Linked DNA regions of Homo sapiens: region 1 is linked to region 2. The links come from fine-mapping of genetic effects on gene expression. Tissue or cell type: whole blood. Region 2 holds a variant in brackets; the other region holds the start of a gene. All regions are shown on one strand. Distances are between the middles of the regions.

What was found. PIP is the estimated chance that this variant, and not a neighbour inherited with it, causes the effect.
Region 1: it holds the start of ARPIN, and the variant in region 2 is the best candidate, but not a certain one, in a credible set for the expression of ARPIN in whole blood (TOPMed, PIP 0.56).

The regions. Positions count from the first base shown.
Region 1 is chr15:89,911,215-89,914,124 of GRCh38, forward strand. ARPIN (actin related protein 2/3 complex inhibitor) reads right to left here and starts at 1,738. Exons shown (of 6, transcript NM_182616.4): 1 at 1,530-1,738. The coding sequence starts at 1,621. It overlaps ARPIN-AP3S2 (ARPIN-AP3S2 readthrough), which reads right to left and starts at 1,738. Exons shown (of 10, transcript NM_001199058.2): 1 at 1,530-1,738. The coding sequence starts at 1,621.
Region 2 is chr15:89,849,353-89,852,262 of GRCh38, forward strand. All of the region lies in intron 8 of ARPIN-AP3S2 (ARPIN-AP3S2 readthrough), which reads right to left. All of the region lies in intron 4 of AP3S2 (adaptor related protein complex 3 subunit sigma 2), which reads right to left. It overlaps MIR5094 (microRNA 5094), which reads right to left and starts at 1,369; the gene lies at 1,285-1,369. RefSeq lists enhancers at 1-53, 2,365-2,414. The variant G/C (reference allele first, on the strand shown) is at 1,224.

The DNA of each region.
Region 1 (2,910 bases), 62 kb after region 2:
GTCCAAATGTGAGGGTAGGTATCTAAGCTGCAATAAACTATTTTCCCTTTCCACCTGTTTTTAAACACTCTCATATTCCTTTTCTCATTCATATCCAGGTGGTCATTAACCCGAGGAAATGGTTATTACTGAGAGGTGAAGAAACCAAAACTCAGAAGTCTGAGACTAGTCCAAGATCACACGGTCCTTCACTGAGGGGAAGTGGACCCCTGGCTTCTCGACTCTGGTTTTCATAAAAGCAGAACGTGGAGGCTTCCTTTTTTGCATCCACAGAAATGGAGAAGCATGGGGACAGCTGAAGATGACAGTGGAATAGGGATGGGAGTGGGAAGTGAAAACTCTACCTAGCTGGTCTCTATCCAATTCTTCCCCACCCCCCACAATTATTTTTCTAAATATTTAACTGACAAAAGACTGTATATATTCAAGGTGCACAACGTGATGATTTAAGTACACACTATGTAATGATTACCACAGATTAATGAACACACCCACCAGACCCCATGCTGTACATTAGGTCCCCAGAAATTGTTTATTCTATAACTGAAAGTTTGTACCTTTGATCATTACCCCATCCCCATCCACTATCCCCTGGCAATCACTGTTCACTGTTCTACTGTTTCTTTTCTTTTGACACAGTCTTGCTCCATCGCCCAGGATGGAGTGCAGTGGCACAATCTCGGCTCACTGCAACCTCCACCTCCCAGGTTCAAGCGATTCTCATGCCTCAGCCTCCCAAATAGCTGGGATTACAGGTATCTGCCACCACGCCCGACTAATTTTTGTATTTTTAGTACAGACAGGGTTTCACCATTAGGCTGGTCTCAAACTCCTAACCTCAAGTGATCCACCCGCCTCGGCCTCCCAAAGTGCTGGGATTACAGGCGTGAACCACAGCGCCTGGTCTGTTCTGCCGTTTCTATGGTTCAACGCTTTTATAGGTTCCATATACGAGATCACACAGTATTTGTCTTTCTGTATCTGGCTTATTTCACTTAGCACAATTCTTCAGCGCAGTTGTAAATGGAATGGTCCCTTCGGCCTCATAACCCTGTGACGACAGGGCCTGGCCCTCCAAATCCTCCTCACCCAGGCAGGCCCTGCTCTGGACCAGCCCGCCCGCTGTTCCCGCCACAGCACGGCCACTGTCCCTTCTGGGGCAGGGCATGAGTCTGTGCAAAAGCAGCGCGGCAAGTAGCTGGAGTTTATAGTTACGCGGGTGGGGTGGGGCCGGAGGTCGGCGTGAGGCGAAGCCCAGCCTTCGGAGACCTGTCTGGGGGTCGGGACCCTCTCTCGAGGGCAGGCGGACAGGCGGGGAGCTTTAAGCCGATCTGTGTCATGGGGTCGCTGGGCGGGCGCGGCGGCAGGGGCGCCGGGAGCGGCGGACTGGAGGGGCGGACTGAAGGCGGAGAGGCGGCTTTGGCAACCCCAGTTTTCCCCCACCCGCATCCCACCCCCCCACCCGATCCTGTTGCGGGGTTCGAGCCGGGGCAGGGGAGGCCGACCCGAGGCCGTGAGCCCAGGCCTACCCCTGGTGGGCGGCGGGGTCCCAGGCCCCTGGCAGCCGGACGCTCTGCACCGCCTTGTTCCGGAGCGCGCCGTCGTGGTAGATGCGGCTCATTCTCCCGACCGCCCGGGCACCCCGGCACAGAGCCGGCGCACTGGGCTGGGGGCGCGGCGCGGGAAGTGCTGCAGGACGCGCGGGGACCCGCGATTCCCAGCCGGCGGATCCGGGAATGGCGCGGCCCGGCCCTCAGGCGTTCCTCGGCGGGATTTAAAGGGACCGAGCTCCATTCCTGCACGCCAGGCCGCGCGCGGCAGGAGTTGGGCTTCCGGGAGGACCCTGGCTGGGGGCTTAGCACAGTGGGGCAGAAAGGCCATGCTTTTCTCTTGTCTCTCTCTCTTCCTCATTCCTAGAGGAAGATCCCTGCCCCAGCACACGCACAAAAGGGAAATTGAGGCCCCAAGATCCTATTATAGAAGATCCTTTGTAGGATCAGCCCGGGAAGGATGGGTTTCTGGGAAGCAGGAATGGAGAACAGCCACTGGGGAGGATTGGGTGGTCAGCTTAGAAGCTGTCCATTATGCCCCGCCCGCGGCCCTACAATGGCTGAGTCAGGTATCCCAGGGATCTGTGACGAGGGAGCTGGGGCATGGGTGTCGGACCAAAGACGCCTAAGTTTGAATCCCAGCTGTGAGCTTGGGCAAGCTCCTCAACCTCTCTGAGCCCATGCTTCTTCGTCTGTAAAATGGGGTCAGTATCAGGGGGATTGTAAAGTTTAATGAGCTCACCCTTTCTACAACATAGCATTGCCCTCCCTCCTTCTTCCTGCACAGCTCCTGAACTCCTCCCTGGCCCCACAATGCCCTTTGCCCAAGTATGTCATAGTCCGCAGGTGCATTTTCCAAGCCTGGTACAGAAGATTCTTCTGACCCTGGGATTGTTGAGGAATCTTTGTTCTTTTGTTTGGCTTCTTCGTGCCAGGCCTCGGGGCAGGTGGGCCCATTCAGGGAGGCCAGGTGTACCCCGGGAGAGGGGGCGGCATTTAAAGGGGGTGGTGGCCAGGCAGGTGCCTAGGAGTCTAGCATGAGCTGTCAATGTTGGAAGAAGAAAGCACCCTCTCCCTTCCCTGCTACACACACACACACACACACACACACACACACACACACACAGACAATGACTTTCTTGGGTCCTAGGCACTTTTGTTTTCAAAGGACCCTTTCTCCATTAAAAATTTTTTAAAAAATTATTATCTTACCACTGGGTTGGCATAAAGATGAATATATGAATTATATATATATATATATATTTTTTTTTTTTTTTTTTTGAGACAGTCTTCCTATGTTGCCCAGGCTGGAGTGCAGTGGTGAATCTTGGCTCACTGTAACCTCTGCCTCCCAGGTTCT
Region 2 (2,910 bases):
TATCTAAGTAATGAATTGTATTTTTTTTTCTTTAGATGGAGTCTCACTCTGTCGCTCAGGCTGGAGTGCAGTGGCACGATCTAGGCTTACTGCAACCTCCACCTCCCAGGTCCAAGTGATTCTCTTGCCTCAGATTCCTGGGTAGCTGGAACTACAGGCGCCCACCACCACGCCCGGCTAATTTTTTGTATTTTTAGTAGAGACGGGGGTTTCACTATGTTAGCCAGGATGGTCTCGATCTCCTGACCTAGTGATCTGCCCACCTTGGCCTCCCAAAGTGCTGGGATTACAGGCATGAGCCACTGCGCCCAGCCTATGAATTGTACTTTTTTAAAAAAAAATTATACTTTAAGTTCTGGGGTACATGTGCAGAACATGCAGGTTTTTACATAGCTATACACGTGCCATGGTGGTTTGTTGCACCCATCAACTGGTCATCTACATTAGGTATTTCTCCTAATGCTACCCTTCTCCTAGCCCCCTACCCCCGAGAGGTGCTGTTGTGTGATGGTCCCCTCCCTGTGCCCATGTGTTCTCATTGTTCAACTGCCATTTATGAGTGAAAACATGTCGTGTTTGGTTTTCTGTTCTTGTGTTAGTTTGCTGAGAATGGTGGTTTCCAGCTTTATCCATGTCCCTGCAAAGGACATGAACTCATCCTTTTTTTATGGCTGCATAGTATTTCATGGTAAATTGTATTTTAATGCTAAGATTCCTTCAGGAACTCTCAGGCACATAGAGCTGTCTGGTCCTAAGCAGCTCTGAAGAAAGCAAGCCAAGAAAGCAACTTTGCTTTGTAAAGTTCTGTTTTTCCCTTTCACCTGCTCTTAGTGTCTTCTGAATCACTTTTATGAACTGTTTGATCTTCAGACTGGACATTTCCATGGTTTTCCCTAGATGTCTTCTTGTCATAAAATTCCACAAGACATTCAATCCCTAGCCATTGATTTCTTTCTCTCTTTCACTCACAGGATCATACATTGTTTCAGTGGGCAATGAATGAATCCAGTGGAGCCTTGTCTTACACATCAGATGAAACGGCTGGCTGGTTTAGGGGCCACAGAGATTGAAAATTTGTTTTAAGCATTAGAATCACTCTAAGCACTCTACGATACACATGAGCACAGGCACATGAGAGCAGAGGCAAAGAAGAGCAGATTCAAATCTTCCATGTCACACTCATTCCAGACATATACTAATTAAGTAGAATTGAGGGCATATTC[G/C]TACTGTATTTAGAATTTTTCATTTCCTTTTTGTTTTTGGACAAATGGATAGAGTTGAACAAGTTGAATGTTTCAGTGAGCCCACTGTACCTACCACATAAAAGGCAGTGTGTTAGGTTCAAGGCATTCACTGATTTTTTTCTTTTTTTTTTTTGAGACAGGGTCTTGCTCTGTCACTATCACTCAAGCTGCAGAGCAGAGGCGTGATCATGGCTCACTGCAGCCATGGCCTCCCAGGCTCAAGTGATCCCACCTCAGCCTCCAGAGTAGCTGGGACCACAGACCTGCATCACCACACCCAGCTAATTTTTGTATTTTTTGTAGAGACAGGGTTTCACCATGTTACCCAGGCTGATCTCAAACTCCTGGGCTCAAGCAATCCTTCTGTTTCAACCTCCCAGAGTGCTGGGATTACAGCACCTGGCCGATTTTTCACTAAAAGAACATAATCTCTAACAATGTCTATTTTCAAATATGCTTAACATCACAGATTGTTAAGAGCTGGAAGAAGGAAATGAAGATAAGATGTGGACCCTGTCCTTAAAGAGCTTAGAATCAAGTAAGAAAGATTAAACATGTACAGAATTAACTATAATAAAAGGAAGTCTGTGATAAATACCATGACCCAAGTACAAAGTACTATGTTATTTCAGAGAAGGGTGGCCTTAAAACTAACTGGCAATTGGAGGAAAAGGCATCCAGGCAGAGGGAATGGCAAATTACCTAGCAACTCATTCATTATTCTTCATGCTCTACTAATTCATCTTCTTTTTTTTTTTTTGAGACAGAGTCTTGCTCTGTCCCCCAGGCTGGAGTGCAGTGGTGCGATCTCAGCTCACTGCAACCTCCGCCTCCTGCGTTCAAGCAATTCTCCTGCCTCAGCCTCCTGAGTAACTATGATTACAGGCATGTGCCACCACGCCTGGCTAATTTTTCTATTTTTAGTAGAGATAGGGTTTCACTATGTTGGCCAGGCTGATCTTGAACTCCTGACCTTGTGATCTGCCCAACTCGGCCTCCCAAAGTGCTGGGATTACAGGCATGAGCCACCGCGCCCAACTCAACTTCTTTTTTAATTAATAAAAGGATCACTCACTCACTGGCTTCATATTTTATGCTCTTTGAATATATATAGTTGACTGCAGTAAAGTATACTCACTACATATTATTACTTCCTTTTTTAAAAAAACCAGTTCCTATTATGAGTCAGGGTTCTCCGTGAAATCATTTTTTTTTTTTTTAATGTTCTAGCAGGACTTTTTCTTTCTAACCCAGTGTTTCATCCTCCTTTGGCTACTACCTGTTTGCACTGCTGATCCCAAATGCCAAGCACAGTGCTAAGTACAGAAAAAGATCCAGACCTTGTCCTTTTGAATTTCATCCTTCCTTGGTTGCTTATCTGCTAAGAAAACATGACACAAACACATTTCCCCACATTTAGGATGTCAAAGCAGGCGGGAATACTACAGGCAGCATTGCAGAGTGTAGAGGGAGCGGGTCCATAATCAGAGTCCAGGATCTGAATGTGGCTCTATCACTTACCAGCTGTGTGACCTTAGAGAAACTGAGGCTTCCTACCAATAAACCTCAGTTTCTTCATCTGTAAAATGGGGAGAACCAGAGTTCTTAGCTGCCAGGCTTATTCTAAAGATTAAAAAAGATGATGTAGGAAATAAATGAGACACTG